Homo sapiens: one gene and its partners. The protein of the gene in region 1 purifies or fractionates together with the protein of each later gene. This does not show direct contact. Each region holds a gene or a part of one and is shown in the gene's direction. Other genes may lie near its edges.

Region 1 (4,007 bases):
CAGGAAGGGTTCAGAGCCAGCCTTCAGGCCATGCAGGCCTCCTGGATGTGCTTACTAACTCTGGGCTCGCTGTTCTCTGAGCTGGCTGGGAGTTCCCCTCTGCACCCCCGTTTCCTCCCCTGTAAGGTGGGAATAATAGCGTATGTCTCTAGGATTAAGTGAGCCAGTCATGCATGGGCCGAGAACCAGGTTTGGCATATTGTAGCTGCTCAGTGGACGTTAGCTGTTATGATTGGACCACAACGTGCTTCCGTTTCAATTCTGTGGGCCTTTTGGAGGTCCTGCTGGATGCTAAGCACCGAAACCTCAACCCGGAACAAGACCAGAACAACCTGAGCAACAACAGGACCAGCGATGGCTCTCCCTGCTGGAGGATTCTGGAAGTCACCTGGCTGGACCAAGCCCTCTCCGTGTTCTCTGTCAGCCCACTCCCCAGAGCCGCTAGGCCTGATGTGCACAAGCAGACTAATAAAGGCTTGAGGACAAAAAGGGTTTTGAGTGATAAGTGAAAAAAGAAAGGAGATAGGGCTGGGCCAACAGGCCTTCCCTTGGTGGTGGGGAGCCCTCAGAGGTGGGAGGAACCCCAGAGGTGAAGAGAGGGACATGGTGGGGGCACAAAAAAAGCTTCCAGAGCCACAGGCCTGGGCGAGTCCTGACATGGAGCCCAGTCTCATACGGCCTCTTTCCCTAGTGGCTGGCTTTGCTCCTGGCCCTAGGTAGCCCAACAGCTGGGCAAGGGGTCCGTCTGGTCAGGGGAAAGGTGCAGGGGCAGAAGGTAGCAGAGGGAGAAAAGGACACCCTGTCTGCCTCTGGCCCCAAAGACAAGTCCGAATGGGGCCAGAGGGAAATGGCTGGGCCTTGGGGTGCCCCAGGGTCTTGGAGGGGACCGGGTGTTCAGGTTTCGCACAAGTACAGGAGGGACCGGCGACCGCCCTCCCCCCGCCCCGGGAGGCTCCGCCAGGGACAGGCGTCCCCGGGATTGGAGGTGACCCCCGTGGGTTCCGAAGCCCCGCCTCGGCCATGCACTGTCTACTAGGCGCGCTTGGGGAGCCTAGGGGCCGTCTCGGAGAAATGGGGTGGTCCCCGCCAGGCGGCGGCGGGGCGGGCCCTGGGCGCCGAAGGGGTTAAGGCACCTGGGCCACCGCCCCTGCCGGCCCCTCCTCCCGCGGCCGGGAAGAGGAAAGTCGCGGCGGGGGCGCGGCCCGGTCTCCGTCCCCACCCGCCCGCCGTCCCGCCGGCCCGAGCCGTGGCGCCCAGAGCTGCGAGCCGCTCGCCCCTCCGCCGCTCCGGCCCGGGCCGCCATGTCGCTGTGGTGAGTGGGGCTGGGGGCCGTCGGGGGCCTGGGCGGGGGCGTGGGCCCGGGGCTCCCCCTCCTCCGTGGCCACAGACGGGCGCCGGGACTCCCGGGATAGGAGATGCCCCCGCGCGCGCCGCGCCGGCCTCAGTTTCCCGGGGGCGGATGGGCGGGCGGGCGCGGCGGCGGCGGCGGGAGATGTTCGCGGTACGCGGCCCCGGACCCGTGGGGGACGTCGAGGGGTCTCGGGGCGCCGCGCTCAGCTCCCCGGCCCCGCGGCCCTGGACACCGCTCCAGGACCCTGGCGGCTGGGACCCCAGGTCTTGCCGGCAGCTGGGTCCCCTCTCCCTTCCAGACCCCTGAGGGCCCCCTGCGTCCGGGCCACTCTCCTCCTCTCGGGGCTTCCTTCCGCGGGACCTCGGACCGCCGCCCGCCCGGCCCCTCTCCGCCCCTCCCGGGCTTTCCCTACGAATGGAGCGGACCCGGCAGGTGGAGCGCCCGCAGCCCAGGGCCTCGCCGCCTTCCCGGTGCACCCCCCGACCTCCCCCGTCCCGGCCTCGGTGGGCGGCTTCCCTGGAACCCCTAGGGCTGGCAGGGCCGGATCCGGAGCCCTCCGTTTCCTCCCCGGAGAGCTGGACCTTGGGTCACACCCCCCAGCCTGCACCTAAGGTGCCCCTGTCTTCCTCCAACCACATGCCCCAGCAACCTGGGGACCCTATGGGGAAAATGTCGCTCTATGGGGCTCAGCCTGCATTCACCCTGGGGCCTGGACCTGCAACCGGACCAGCCCTCAGGGCAACCCAGGCGTCTCCACGGGCTGCCTGTCTCTCCTGGCACCCTGCTCCTCCCCCTTGGAGGTCAGCGCCATCTCTCTGCTAGGCTGGCCCTGGAAGGCCACTCTGCTGTCCCCAGAGCTCTCAGCCCCCAGGTCTCCACTGGGGAGGGTGGGGCAGGTGTCCTGGCAGCCCCCGGAGGGTGAGATGAAGAGAGGAGGTCCTTCAGGACAGGGGCTCAGGCCCCAGGGCTTGGGACGACCAGCACTCCTGGCAGAGAGCTCTAATTTCTGCTTCCGAAATGGGTGTGGACCGGGGTTGGGGTGGGGGGGTCTCTGGGCAAGAAGGGTCCCTCAAGGGCTGGAGCTGCAAATGTGCCCCCTCCCAGGGAGTAGAGCTGTAGCCTCATGTCTTCTAATGGGGTGTTATGAGCTGGGGATGTTAAGGTAGGGGTGAGGGGCAGTGCCATGCTAGAGGTGCTCACTGCATCCTTGGGCCTCCATCAACCATGAGGGCTGCTCTTTGTTGGGTGAGACAGACTGGAGAAGGGGGAGGAGGGCCAGTCTTCCTCAGGTCCCAAGCTCGAGCCACTCTCCAATGTGCCCCACATGTGATGGAGCTCCCGGGCGGCACAGAGGATCAGAGGGTGCCCTCTCAATGACTCTGGCTCTGAGTCACCTAATGATACCGATACCTACTGCTGTGGGTAGGTACACCGCAGGGAAATGAAAGGCATTGGGGTTCCAGGCGTGGGGAACAGGGCAGAGGTTTCCACCTGAGGCCCTCCTGTTAAGGTGACAGCATTCCCCTAACTGTGCACCCGCTGCCTGGTACTTTATATAGCACTCCAATCCTGTGTTTTAGCCCCATTTGGGGGAAGAAGAAATCGTGGCTCAGAGTGGTTGTAAACCACTCATTCAGCTTGTAAGCGTCAGGGCCTGATTCCACAGTGCTCCTTGAGGAGAGGGCAGGGTGGGAGAAAGAAAGGGCAGGGTGGGAGAGGAAGCGGGACCCTACCCTGACAGCTTAGGGACTCCGGGACTGAGCCTGTGCCCAGGTCCACTTGCCCGTCTGGGACCACCCAGCCTCCCAAGGGGGGCGCCAGGAGAGCCCTGGGCTCATCTTTTCTCTCTCCTCTGTACTGTCCGCTCTCCCCCACAGGAAGAAAACCGTCTACCGGAGTCTGTGCCTGGCCCTGGCCCTGCTCGTGGCCGTGACGGTGTTCCAACGCAGTCTCACCCCTGGTCAGTTTCTGCAGGAGCCTCCGCCACCCACCCTGGAGCCACAGAAGGCCCAGAAGCCAAATGGACAGCTGGTGAACCCCAACAACTTCTGGAAGAACCCGAAAGATGTGGCTGCGCCCACGCCCATGGCCTCTCAGGGGCCCCAGGCCTGGGACGTGACCACCACTAACTGCTCAGCCAATATCAACTTGACCCACCAGCCCTGGTTCCAGGTCCTGGAGCCGCAGTTCCGGCAGTTTCTCTTCTACCGCCACTGCCGCTACTTCCCCATGCTGCTGAACCACCCGGAGAAGTGCAGGGGCGATGTCTACCTGCTGGTGGTTGTCAAGTCGGTCATCACGCAGCACGACCGCCGCGAGGCCATCCGCCAGACCTGGGGCCGCGAGCGGCAGTCCGCGGGTGGGGGCCGAGGCGCCGTGCGCACCCTCTTCCTGCTGGGCACGGCCTCCAAGCAGGAGGAGCGCACGCACTACCAGCAGCTGCTGGCCTACGAAGACCGCCTCTACGGCGACATCCTGCAGTGGGGCTTTCTCGACACCTTCTTCAACCTGACCCTCAAGGAGATCCACTTCCTCAAGTGGCTGGACATCTACTGCCCCCACGTCCCCTTCATTTTCAAAGGCGACGATGACGTCTTCGTCAACCCCACCAACCTGCTAGAATTTCTGGCTGACCGGCAGCCACAGGAAAACCTGT
Region 2 (3,500 bases), on another chromosome or scaffold:
CCTCTTCCTTCTCTTTCTCTTTTCCACTCTCTATCCAATATTTCCTTGAAAAACTGTCTCAAAACTCACCTCTTTGAAAAACAGAATCTCTATATAACCTCTTCTTTCAAGGATCAGTCACATTCTTTTTGCTCTTCCACATGTTTTATTATAATATCTTGTCATTGTCCACATATGACTATTGATTCAATATATACATATTATTTCTAATTATATGGTAATTGCTTGAGAGCAGCTATCCATCTTATGTTTTCCAGCTCAGAGCTCAATATAGGCTTACTTAGTGATAAGTGAGATGTACAGATGCAATACTAAAGACCAAACAAGGAAATGATTTAACTTACCCATCAATCCATCCATCCATTCAACCAAGTTGAACAACCAACTAACCAGTCATAGGGCAACTATTTTTGACCACCCAAGAGTTCACTACTACCCTAAGATCTGTAAGGAACCTAAAAGAAGTCCCTGTCAGCCAGGCACAGTGGCTCACGCCTGTAATCCCAGTACTTTGGGAGGCCAAGGCAGGTGGATCACCTGAGGTTGGGAGTTTGAGACCAGCCTGACCAACATGGAGAAACCCTGTCTCTACTAAAAATACAAAATTAGCCAGGCGTGGTGGTGCATGCCTGTAATCCCAGCTACTCGGGAGGCTGAGGCAGGAGAATTGCTTGAACCCAGGAAGCGGGAGTTGCAGCGAGCAGAGATCGCGCCATTGCACTCCAGCCTGGGCAACAAGAGCGAAACTCCATCTCAAAAAAAAAAAAAAAAAGAAGAGGAAGAAGACGAAGACGAAGAAGAGGAAAAAGAAGACCCTGTCTTTCACAGACCCTGCCTGCCTGGGTCTGTACTCCCAGGCAGGGTTTCTCAGCAGTGGGACTATTGATATTTTGGATGGGGTCATTCCTTGTTGTAGGAGGGCTGTCTGGTGCATTGCAGGATACTTAGCAGCATGGTCTATGGTCTATTTGCTAAATTTTGGTAGCACAACCTCCCCTGCATCATAACAATCAAATATAACGTCAGACATTGCCAAATGTCCGCTGGGGGGAATAATTGCCTCTGGTTGAGAAACATTGCTCTAATACAACAGTTTATTCACTGCTTCCTTCCTTCCATCACTCATTCATTTAACAAATATTTACGAAGCACCTACTATGTGTCATACACTTAGTTCATCTATGAGCAAAACAGACCCAAAGCATAAAAACAGAAACCAAACAAAAAACAGAAAAAAAACGGATGCCTACCCTCTGTGTGCTTATGAAACTTACATCTGAGGGATAGGGGACAGAGAATAAACAATACACATGCAAGTACAAATGTACAAGTACGTTCAATGGCAGCATTTTGATAAAAGTTTTTTTAAAAAATAAAAGAAGCATATGTTAAAAACCAAGAGTGGCAATTGCAGGGGTATGCAATTTTAAATAGGCTTGTCATCTAAATAGGTGGTTTCCTGGAGAAGACCTCTGAGGAGACCCTGAGAAGGTGAAGGGAGAGTTGTGCAGATATCTAAGGGAATTAAATGCAATGAACAGCTCATGCAACAGTTCTAAGTCGAAAGTGTGCAAAGAACAGAGAGAGATGCCAGTAGAGAGGGGCAGTGGGAGATGAGATCTGAGAAGTGAGAGGCAAGGTGGCTCATGGAACACCTGTGCAGTCATGATCAGAGCTGGATTCTGGAATCTGTTTTGAAGGTAGAGTAAACAGTATATCCTGAAGGGCTAGCTGTGAGGCAAGGGAAGAAAAGAGAAGTGAAAGATGCCCCAGGACTTAGCCTGAGTGACTAGAAGGATGAAGTGGCCATCCATGAGTTGACAAAGACAGAAATGTAATCAGACATTGCAGGGAATGTCCCAGTTTGGTTTTGGATGCAAAGTCTGAGATTTCTATTAAGTACCCACGTTGGCCATGGAAGCGTGGTGTTCAAAAGTGAGATGTGGAGACACACAGTTAGGACTCCCCAGCATATAGAAGGTACTGTCAGCATTGGGACTAGGTGAGAATGCCGAGGAGTAGATGGACAAGGGAGCCAAGATCAGACAACAGAGCATTCCAATATTGGGAATTTGGGAAGAAGAGGATAATTGGTGATAGAGACTAATAAAAACAATTAGTAAGTGGGGGAGAAAAATCAAGAGAGAATGAGGCCCTGGAAGACAATTGAGGAATTTGTGTTCAGGAGGGAGATGAGAGCACTTGCCGGTGCATGAGAAATGAAGATGGACCTTTGGATTTAGTGACATTAGCATCATTGGTGACCTTGACAAGGGCAGTTTCAGTAGAGTGACAGGGATGAAAACCCGAAAGGATTGGGCTTATGAGAGAATAGGAAGAGAAGATTTGGAGACAGTGTGTTTAGACAATTCCTCAAGGAATTTTATTGCAGAAGAAAGCTGAGAAATGAAGAAAGTGGATGCACATGAGGTTTGTAGAAGGGTGAGAAATAACATGTTTTTGTTGATGGAAATGTACCAATAGAATAGGGAAATTGAAGAGGCAAAGGACAATTGCTGGAGCCATGATCTTTAGTCAAAGAGAGGGAATGAAATAGTTCATGAATAGATGGGTTTGCATTAGGTAGAAATACTGCTAGTTGTTCTTTATTATCAGGTAGGAAAGAAAAATGTATGGGTACAAATATTGATGGTTGGGATTTTATGGTAGTGGGAGTCTGTGGGAATGTTCTTCTGTCTGCTGCAGTTTCTCAGTGGAGTTGGAATCAAAATCATCACACGTAAGCTAGAGAAAGAGGGTGATGGTGGTGGTTTAAAGAGAAAGATGAGGAAATAGTTTAAGAGACTGGGTGAGTAGATGGACTTGAGAAATGTATTTTATTTTCAGGCATCATAAAGGTGGCACTCGAAGTTTGTGATCCTTAACATAAAGACTAGTCAAACTGGTTGTGCATAGCAAAATAGATAGTAAAATTATCAAAAAGCCAACAGTACATGCCCAGAATAAATAAGGGGCAGGTCTGCATTGACTGAGGTGGGCTCAAGAGGTTTTCTGGAAGAAGTTTAGCTTGAGAAGAACTTGAAAGATGACCAGGATCAATGATTGGTCTTCCTAGTTCCTCTGAGGCTCAGATTTTCTGTAATGGGACCTGTCTTTATTCTCTATTGAAATAGACTGTGGAAGCAATGAAGACCATATTGGATGACCTCAGAGCAGAAGACCATTTCTCTGTGATTGATTTCAACCAGAACATTCGAACTTGGAGAAATGATTTAATTTCAGCTACAAAAACACAGGTTGCAGATGCCAAGAGGTATATTGAGAAAATCCAGCCCAGTGGAGGTGAGTGTGTTGGGCTAAATCCCAAGGAGACACTTCCTCTGGGTTCAAATCATGATTCACTTAAGAAGCATTATTCCCATCACAGTGGTCTTTCCCCAGCATTCGAGGGCCTATCTTAAATAATACATTTATTGGTAATGGATGAATGCTAAGTTTGTAGTGAAAGTAGAATTTGTAATACAGCCCACATAAGCTTT
Region 3 (3,500 bases), on another chromosome or scaffold:
ATTCTGTGAAGCATGTGAAATAGAAAGATTGCTATGATTGGAAATGAAAAGTCACTTTGGAATGGGGGTGGATTATCTTGCCTATTTCTTTTTTATCTTTGGCCTTTTGTGAGGTCAGTATTTGCAAGAGTTCTGTGACTTGAACCCAGACTTTTGCCCAGCTCTCATATGATAGAAGTGAGCTGTTGCTAGTTGATTGGTGGATTCTAGCCCAGTTCAGCCCAGTGATTTGATTTATGGGAAGATATGTGGTGAAATGGAATCTTTAGCATTAGAAACTTTCTGTTATGTAACAGATTTTTACCATCTGCTTCATTTCCCTCAACTCACTACCATTTCAGATCCAGAAAAAAAGTTCTACCTACCCCTACTCTCAGTAATAATTTACATTATATTGAAGCTCAGTTCCCTGTTCTCTTTTTTAAAAAAATGCATTTTGCATTGTAATATAGGAAAGGTACTCTACTTTTTTATTTCAGAATTATTTCTACATGCACTTCTTTTTATCAAGTTTGCTTTTCTGCCCAAATAAGGAATAGTGTGGTTTTGTCTAACGATGTGAAATCACCAATAAACACTGGCTAGATTGGTTTCAGGAGCGTGATGCGTGGTTTGTTGTTCTGATTGGGGGTGGTTTTATTGTGAAGCTAATGATCCCTATACCTTAAAGCCCCTCACTTACATGGGCTTTTTTTCTATTTGTAATGCTGAATCTTGTTTTTAAAAGAAGGCTTTCCAAATTCTGTTAGCTTCAGACATCACAAAAGCTGGTTCTGAGGGGTTCTGTGTAAGAGCCTTGGAGATCTAGGAGTTGGCTTTAAAGACAATGTTGGATGAGCAGGGCAGATAGCTTTTTTTTTTTTTTTTTTTTTTTGAGATGGAGTCTCGCTCTGTCACCCAGGCTAGAGTGCAGTGGCACGATCTCAGCTCACCGAAACCTCCGCCTCCCAGGTTCAAGCGATTCTCCTGCCTCAGCCTCCTGAGTAGCTGGGATTACAGGCTCCCACCACCATGCCTGGCTAATTTTTGTATTTTTAGTAGAAATGGGGTTTCACCATGTTGGCCAGGCTGGTCTCGAATTCCTGATCTCAGGTGATCTGCCCACCTCAGCCTCCCAAAGTGCTGGCATAACAGGCGTGAGCCACTGCGCCCAGCCAAGTGCTCAGAAGTATTTTAATCAACTCTTAGTCTTCTTTATTTTCTGAACTTTTAAGCCTTTTTCCTCAGAGTCTTCTACTATTTACTTTCCCAATGATTATTCTGTTAACAGCGGCAGCACAGTTCTGCTATGTGTATGATCTCTGTGAGTGTAGATACCCTTCACTCTCCTTGTTTTACAGATGAGGAAACAGTCTGAGAGAAGTTTATTAACTTGCCTAAGGTCACACAGCATAGAAAGCAATAGAGCTGAGATTCAAACCTTGCTATGTTTCATGGAACACCTTTACTTGTTTCATCTTCCTGATGTCAGCCAGCCAGATATCTTGGAATGAGAATCTGAAAAAATTCCAACACAAAATACTAATGTCCTAGGGGCCAAGAATTATTATTATTATTTTTTAAAAATATAATTTATTTTTTAAACTTGGTGGTAGGTACACAGGCATTTGTTTTATTGTTATTCTTTATACCCTATACATATTTTATTATCATTCTTTTTATGTTTATAAAATATTTAGGCCAGGCGCGGTGGCTCACGTCTGTAATCCCAGCACTTTGGGAGGCTGAGGCAGGCGGATCACGAGGTCAGGAGATCGAGACCATCCTGGCTAACACGGTGAAACCCCGTCTCTACTAAAAATACAAAAAATTAGCCAGGCGTGGTGGCGGGTGCCTGTAGTCCCAGCTACTTGGGAGGCTGAGGCAGGAGAATGGCATGAACCTGGGAGGCGAAGCGTGCAGTGAGCTGAGATCATGCCACTGCACTCTAGCCTAGGAGACAGAGCGAGACTCCATCTCAAAAAAAGAAAAAAGAAAAAAAAAGATATATGTATATATATAAAATATTGTAGAAAAGAATAATTATTGTTTTTATGAATTACATTTTTAATGCAATTCTAGCAATATAAATACAAAACAAAAAGCAAAACCAAAAAGCCCAATCAAAAATATCACCACCCAGGCGAGGTGCAGTGGCTCATGCCTGTAATCCCAGCACTTTGGGAGGCTGAGGCAGGAGAATTGGTTGAATTTGGGAGGCAGAGGTTGCAGTGAGCTGAGATCGTGCCACTGCGCTCCAGTCTGGGTGACAGAATAAGACTCCGTCTCAAAAAAAAAAAAAAATCACCTCCCAGAAACTCATTAAATGAGAAATCATTCCACAATATTCTGGATGCATCTATACAGAAAGATAGAAAAGAAGTGATTAAGATTGTCTCAGTTATCTAGTGTGCGTTAACAAGCTACCCCAAAACTTAATAGCATATAACAAAAAACCAATTATTTATTCAGGGCTACAAGCTCTAATGCTTGAAAAAAGATTGCTACCTTAGCCAGTTTCAGAGCTGCCCCCACACGTGGGGACATCTTTTAGTCATCTAATTTCAGTGGCTTCTAGGCAAGTGAACCAGCTATTGTCTCAAGCACATCAGTAAATCTGTCAATATTGCTTCACTCATTGGTTAGGACTGGTAGTCCCATGTGCTTAGCACATGTAGGCACTTAATGAAGATTCATGAACAAATGAAGTAAGTGAGGGCGCCTTTCATGGACCTGACTGCTTAGCACTGATTTCTCTTTTTGCCTGACTTAGGTATTTGGCTCGAGTAGGGGAGCTTGAAGCTACTGACACTGAAGACCCAAATCTGAATTATGGACTTGTTGTTGACTGTGGCAGCAGTGGTTCCCGGATTTTTGTTTATTTCTGGCCAAGACATAATGGGAACCCCCATGACTTGCTGGACATCAAACAGATGAGAGACCGCAACAGCCAACCAGTGGTTAAAAAAATCAAGCCAGGTACTAATCAGAATATATTTTGTTGTCAGTCTCTTTTAAGGCATGAAAGAGGAGACAAAAGAAGCAGAAAGCAAGCTACCCCTTTCTTCTTGAGAGTCTGGGTAATGGGAGGGATATCTCTTTCATTGTCACCCCCTACCTCTCAAATAAATAAATGTTTAGGACCTTGAGGAGAACTTTATAGGGTATCAGTTTCCTGAGTCTTATGTGAGCCGCTTTTTAAAGAAAGTTTTGTCTGTTTGTTTGTTTTAACTTAAGGAATCTCTGCAATGGCAGACACTCCAGAACATGCCAGTGATTACCTTCGTCCTCTGCTGAGCTTTGCTGCTGCTCATGTGCCTGTGAAGAAGCACAAGGAGACCCCTCTTTACATCCTCTGCACAGCAGGCATGAGGCTTCTCCCTGAGAGGTGAGATGCAGGGTACAGGAAACACAGGAAAACGGTGGCACAAGAGATGAAAGGCCAGTTTCATGCACTGTCCTCTGTGGTTCCCTGGTCTATACCCCTAAACCCAATTATGACACAATCATTCATTCCCAAC
Region 4 (3,500 bases), on another chromosome or scaffold:
TGTACTAAGAAAAATTATATAACTTAGGGAAGATCCAGTTTCTGATTTTAATTAATTATACATATAAATGGTACTACTTTAATAATTGTTTTTTCTCCTTTCAGGGCAATTCCACATCCTCGTGGTCATGCACATTTGGCAGCACTTGTCAACCATGAATGTAAGCAGATTCTGACTTTTTTTCAGTAAAGATGTACTTGAAAAAATATTATTTTTAAAAGTGCAGATATAGTGTAGTTGAAAGTGAGCTGTTTTGAAAACATATTCATCCAAAGGAAAAAATAAATTTTTAAATTGATTTACTTTAATCTGCATTTGTATTTGGTCATGGCTCTGAGTTGCTGAGGTTAGGGAGGAAAGCCTAGTGTACTTTCTATAACTTTGTACACATTTCTGCTAATTTTTAGGGATAAAGAAAATAATATATTTGCAGTTTATTTCAATTTGCAAATTGAAATATGGATGTATAGACATGTATAAAGTATTCAGGTTAGTTTGGTATCATGATTGTCTTAAGACTTAAGTTCTTAAAGTCTGCTTTAGAGGACAAAACAAGTAATGGATTCCACAGAAAATTAGTTTGGTCACATTTAGCAATAGTGTATTAAAAATATATCTGATCAGTTTTATTATATGGCCACATGGCCATCATTCCAATTCTAACAATACCGTCCTGTTAACTATATGATGATTTGGAAAAGGAAAGATGTATATTTTTGGCTTTCATTATATATTAATATTTTCTAGACGTTAAATTGTATATAATTATTAAATTTGAGATATAGCATTTTGTCAGAATTTATTTTATACATTTAATTCGCATATATTTACATTTATTTTTCTCAAAGTATTGTGGCTTAAAATACTGTATTATTATCCTTGAAGATTTTAAACATTTTCATTTGAGAATAGATAAGGATGTAAACCAGTCTGTACCAAGTAATTTTGAATAATATAATTTCTCTGCTAAGTTGTTTTTATTTTTTGCCTTTTAGCTTACAATTTTTCTCATAGAATAGATCATTTGTCTTTTGGAGAGCTTGTTCCAGCAATTATTAATCCTTTAGATGGAACTGAAAAAATTGCTATAGATCGTAAGTATTTAATAATTATTGTTGGATTTTACATGTAGAAAATTTTGCTTATAACCTGAATATTAATACATTTTTAATGTCTTCCTAACTACTGTGTAAAGATAATCTTTAAGTGGTTGGTGATTGAGATGTATGTGAAGAGAATTTGTCCTAGTAGTGGATGAAATTTGAATATTCAAAAATGAGCCATAGAACAGAATAAAGAAATTCAAGTTAAAAGATGAAGGAATTAAAAGGCAGAAGGAGTTCAATTTAAACAGTAGAAATAGATGAAAGGTTAATACATTAACAGGGCATAACTGCACTTTTTTGTATTCACCAAAGAATAAGAATGAAAAAAAGGTTCAACATTATGAGAAGAATTTTCTTCTTTGTATAATATAGGTTCAAAGTTTTAAAATGCATATATATCATTTCAGAAACCTCTCTGGAGAATTTTACAAACACCAGAAACCTAGTTATTCTGGAATGGTTTGGTTATTAACATAGAAGGAGTACATTATAGCACAGATAACCTTTTTAAAATGTTCTATTTAACCTTCTGCTCCATTTAAAGTATCAAGTCTATCCAAATATGGAAAGATCATTTTCTTAGTTTTTTAGAAAGTAGTCTGTTCTCATGTTTTCTGCAGGTTTTTGATTGCCTCTTTCTAAAATAGTCATATTATATACCATGTTCCAGCTATTGGACATTTTAAGGACTTCTGAAGCTTGTTCAGCTAGTAGGAATTCTATCCTTTGTAAAATTGTAATTAAGGATTTAGTTTTTTATTAATTTAAGTAGATTTATTAATATCCTATTCAGATTTATTCATATTCTTTACTTTTTAGCAGTGTTATAATCATATATTAAAGATGTTTAGAATTTAGAATACTGATTTACATTCATGAATATTTTATGTTCATGTGGGAATGTTTCACTTCAGGAAACCTGAGTGTACTAAATTTAGAAATGTGTGGATGGAAACATTTTGAGATTTATAAGCTTTAGTCAGTATAATCTAATCTGTAATCTAAGCATATGTTAATTCTCCTCTGAAATGCATTGCATGTTACCTGAGAGATGCTCATTTGGAAACATACTGGTCGATGCTTTGTTTCAAGATGCTAAAATGAACTACAAATTTTTGCACAGAAGCTCTTCTAAATATAAACAGGTCAATTTTCAAAAAGCTGTTTTTAAGTGTACTTCTTTATAAATTCAGAGAAACTAAGAGGTATTTAGAGTCATATTCTGAAATGCCGTTAGGTGAGTATCATCAGGTTTTTCAAAGCTTTAAAGCAGTTTGTATACTTTTCTCCTTCGTAATATATGTTTTTTTCAGCCTCTTTTTCCAAAAAGAAAAAAATCAACATTACATATCTGCTATGTCAGGTAGCTATCCCTTTCCTGATGTTCTCCAGAAGTATTGCAGGAGTTACTTAACAATTAACATCTTTAATGCAGTACAGATTTGGATAAACAAGGTAGACATAGTCCCTGCCCTTCATAGAGCGCACGTTCCTATAGGGAATTAGATCTTTAGGTAATAAGTGTTAGGGCAAACGGCTCTGAACAAAATAAAGGAGATTGCCTATGATATGAGAAAGGGCATGGAAGAGGCTGTGGTATTTGAAAAAAACTTGAGTGAAGTAAATAAGTGAGCTAAGCGATTATCTTTTTGAGAGCATTGCAGGCAGCTTTATTATTAATGAAGCCGGTAGAAATAAAACAACCTATATGTGCTGCCACAAACTGGACAACCTAACTCCATACTCCTCCTACCCTGCTGACTTCTCAAATGGCAGGGATGGCTCACTTTCCTAATGGTAGAAGGTGGTTATGTATGTCTTGAAGACAGAGCTGTTTAAGAGAGAGAATGCCTATACTATCTAATTGAGTGGCTTAGCCACACATGATTACTTTTTGCAGATGAATCATTCCTTCCATGAGTGAGAGAGAAGTGGAGAGGAAGGTCAAAGCTTTTACTCTTTTATGTACAAAGGGGTGCAAGCTTCTATTTAAATCTGGGAGAATTTTTTCTGCTTAAATTTAAGACCATATTCCCCTTGAGTGGAACCGCCTGGGTTCAAGTTCTCACTCTGCCACTTAATAACTTGGACTTTGGCCTGTTTCTTAACATCCCTGTACTTGAGTTGCTTCATCTCTAACAAAAGGATAATAAAAACATTTACTTGCTTCTCTAGTTGAATCTATGGATAGGTGTATCTAATTATACTTTTTCTAGAGAATTCTCTAGACCCGGAGAATTAACATGTTTTATATTATGTGAATGGGTAATTGTTTACAGTTAATTAGTAATTGGTAATATTCTGGTATTTAAAACTTGTGTCAAACTTAGAGATGCCTAATGACTGTATAAAAATGATCCTTTTGATTATACAGTAACCCCAGGCCATCATTGA

Evidence for each region. Proteins that work in one complex are often made in the same cells at the same time.
Region 2: the proteins of B3GNT7 (region 1) and ITIH2 purify together in Homo sapiens (affinity purification with mass spectrometry; one large-scale study listed by BioGRID and IntAct). This does not show direct contact.
Region 3: the proteins of B3GNT7 (region 1) and ENTPD7 purify together in Homo sapiens (affinity purification with mass spectrometry; one large-scale study listed by BioGRID and IntAct). This does not show direct contact.
Region 4: the proteins of B3GNT7 (region 1) and ERGIC2 purify together in Homo sapiens (affinity purification with mass spectrometry; one large-scale study listed by BioGRID and IntAct). This does not show direct contact.

What each region holds. Positions count from the first base shown.
Region 1 is NC_000002.12:231,394,503-231,398,509, forward strand, and holds the start of B3GNT7 (UDP-GlcNAc:betaGal beta-1,3-N-acetylglucosaminyltransferase 7), read left to right. Parts: upstream 1-1,207; 5' UTR 1,208-1,301; coding exon 1,302-1,312; intron 1,313-3,228; coding exon 3,229-4,007.
Region 2 is NC_000010.11:7,723,816-7,727,315, forward strand, and holds part of ITIH2 (inter-alpha-trypsin inhibitor heavy chain H2 precursor), read left to right. Parts: intron 1-3,134; coding exon 3,135-3,303; intron 3,304-3,500. UniProt on the Homo sapiens protein: May act as a carrier of hyaluronan in serum or as a binding protein between hyaluronan and other matrix protein, including those on cell surfaces in tissues to regulate the localization, synthesis and degradation of hyaluronan which are essential to cells undergoing biological processes.
Region 3 is NC_000010.11:99,676,509-99,680,008, forward strand, and holds part of ENTPD7 (ectonucleoside triphosphate diphosphohydrolase 7), read left to right. Parts: intron 1-2,752; coding exon 2,753-2,958; intron 2,959-3,216; coding exon 3,217-3,367; intron 3,368-3,500. UniProt on the Homo sapiens protein: Catalyzes the hydrolysis of nucleoside triphosphates and diphosphates in a calcium- or magnesium-dependent manner. Preferentially hydrolyzes nucleoside 5'-triphosphates, with substrate preference for UTP > GTP > CTP.
Region 4 is NC_000012.12:29,346,673-29,350,172, reverse strand, and holds part of ERGIC2 (endoplasmic reticulum-Golgi intermediate compartment protein 2), read left to right. Parts: intron 1-104; coding exon 105-160; intron 161-995; coding exon 996-1,094; intron 1,095-3,500. UniProt on the Homo sapiens protein: Possible role in transport between endoplasmic reticulum and Golgi.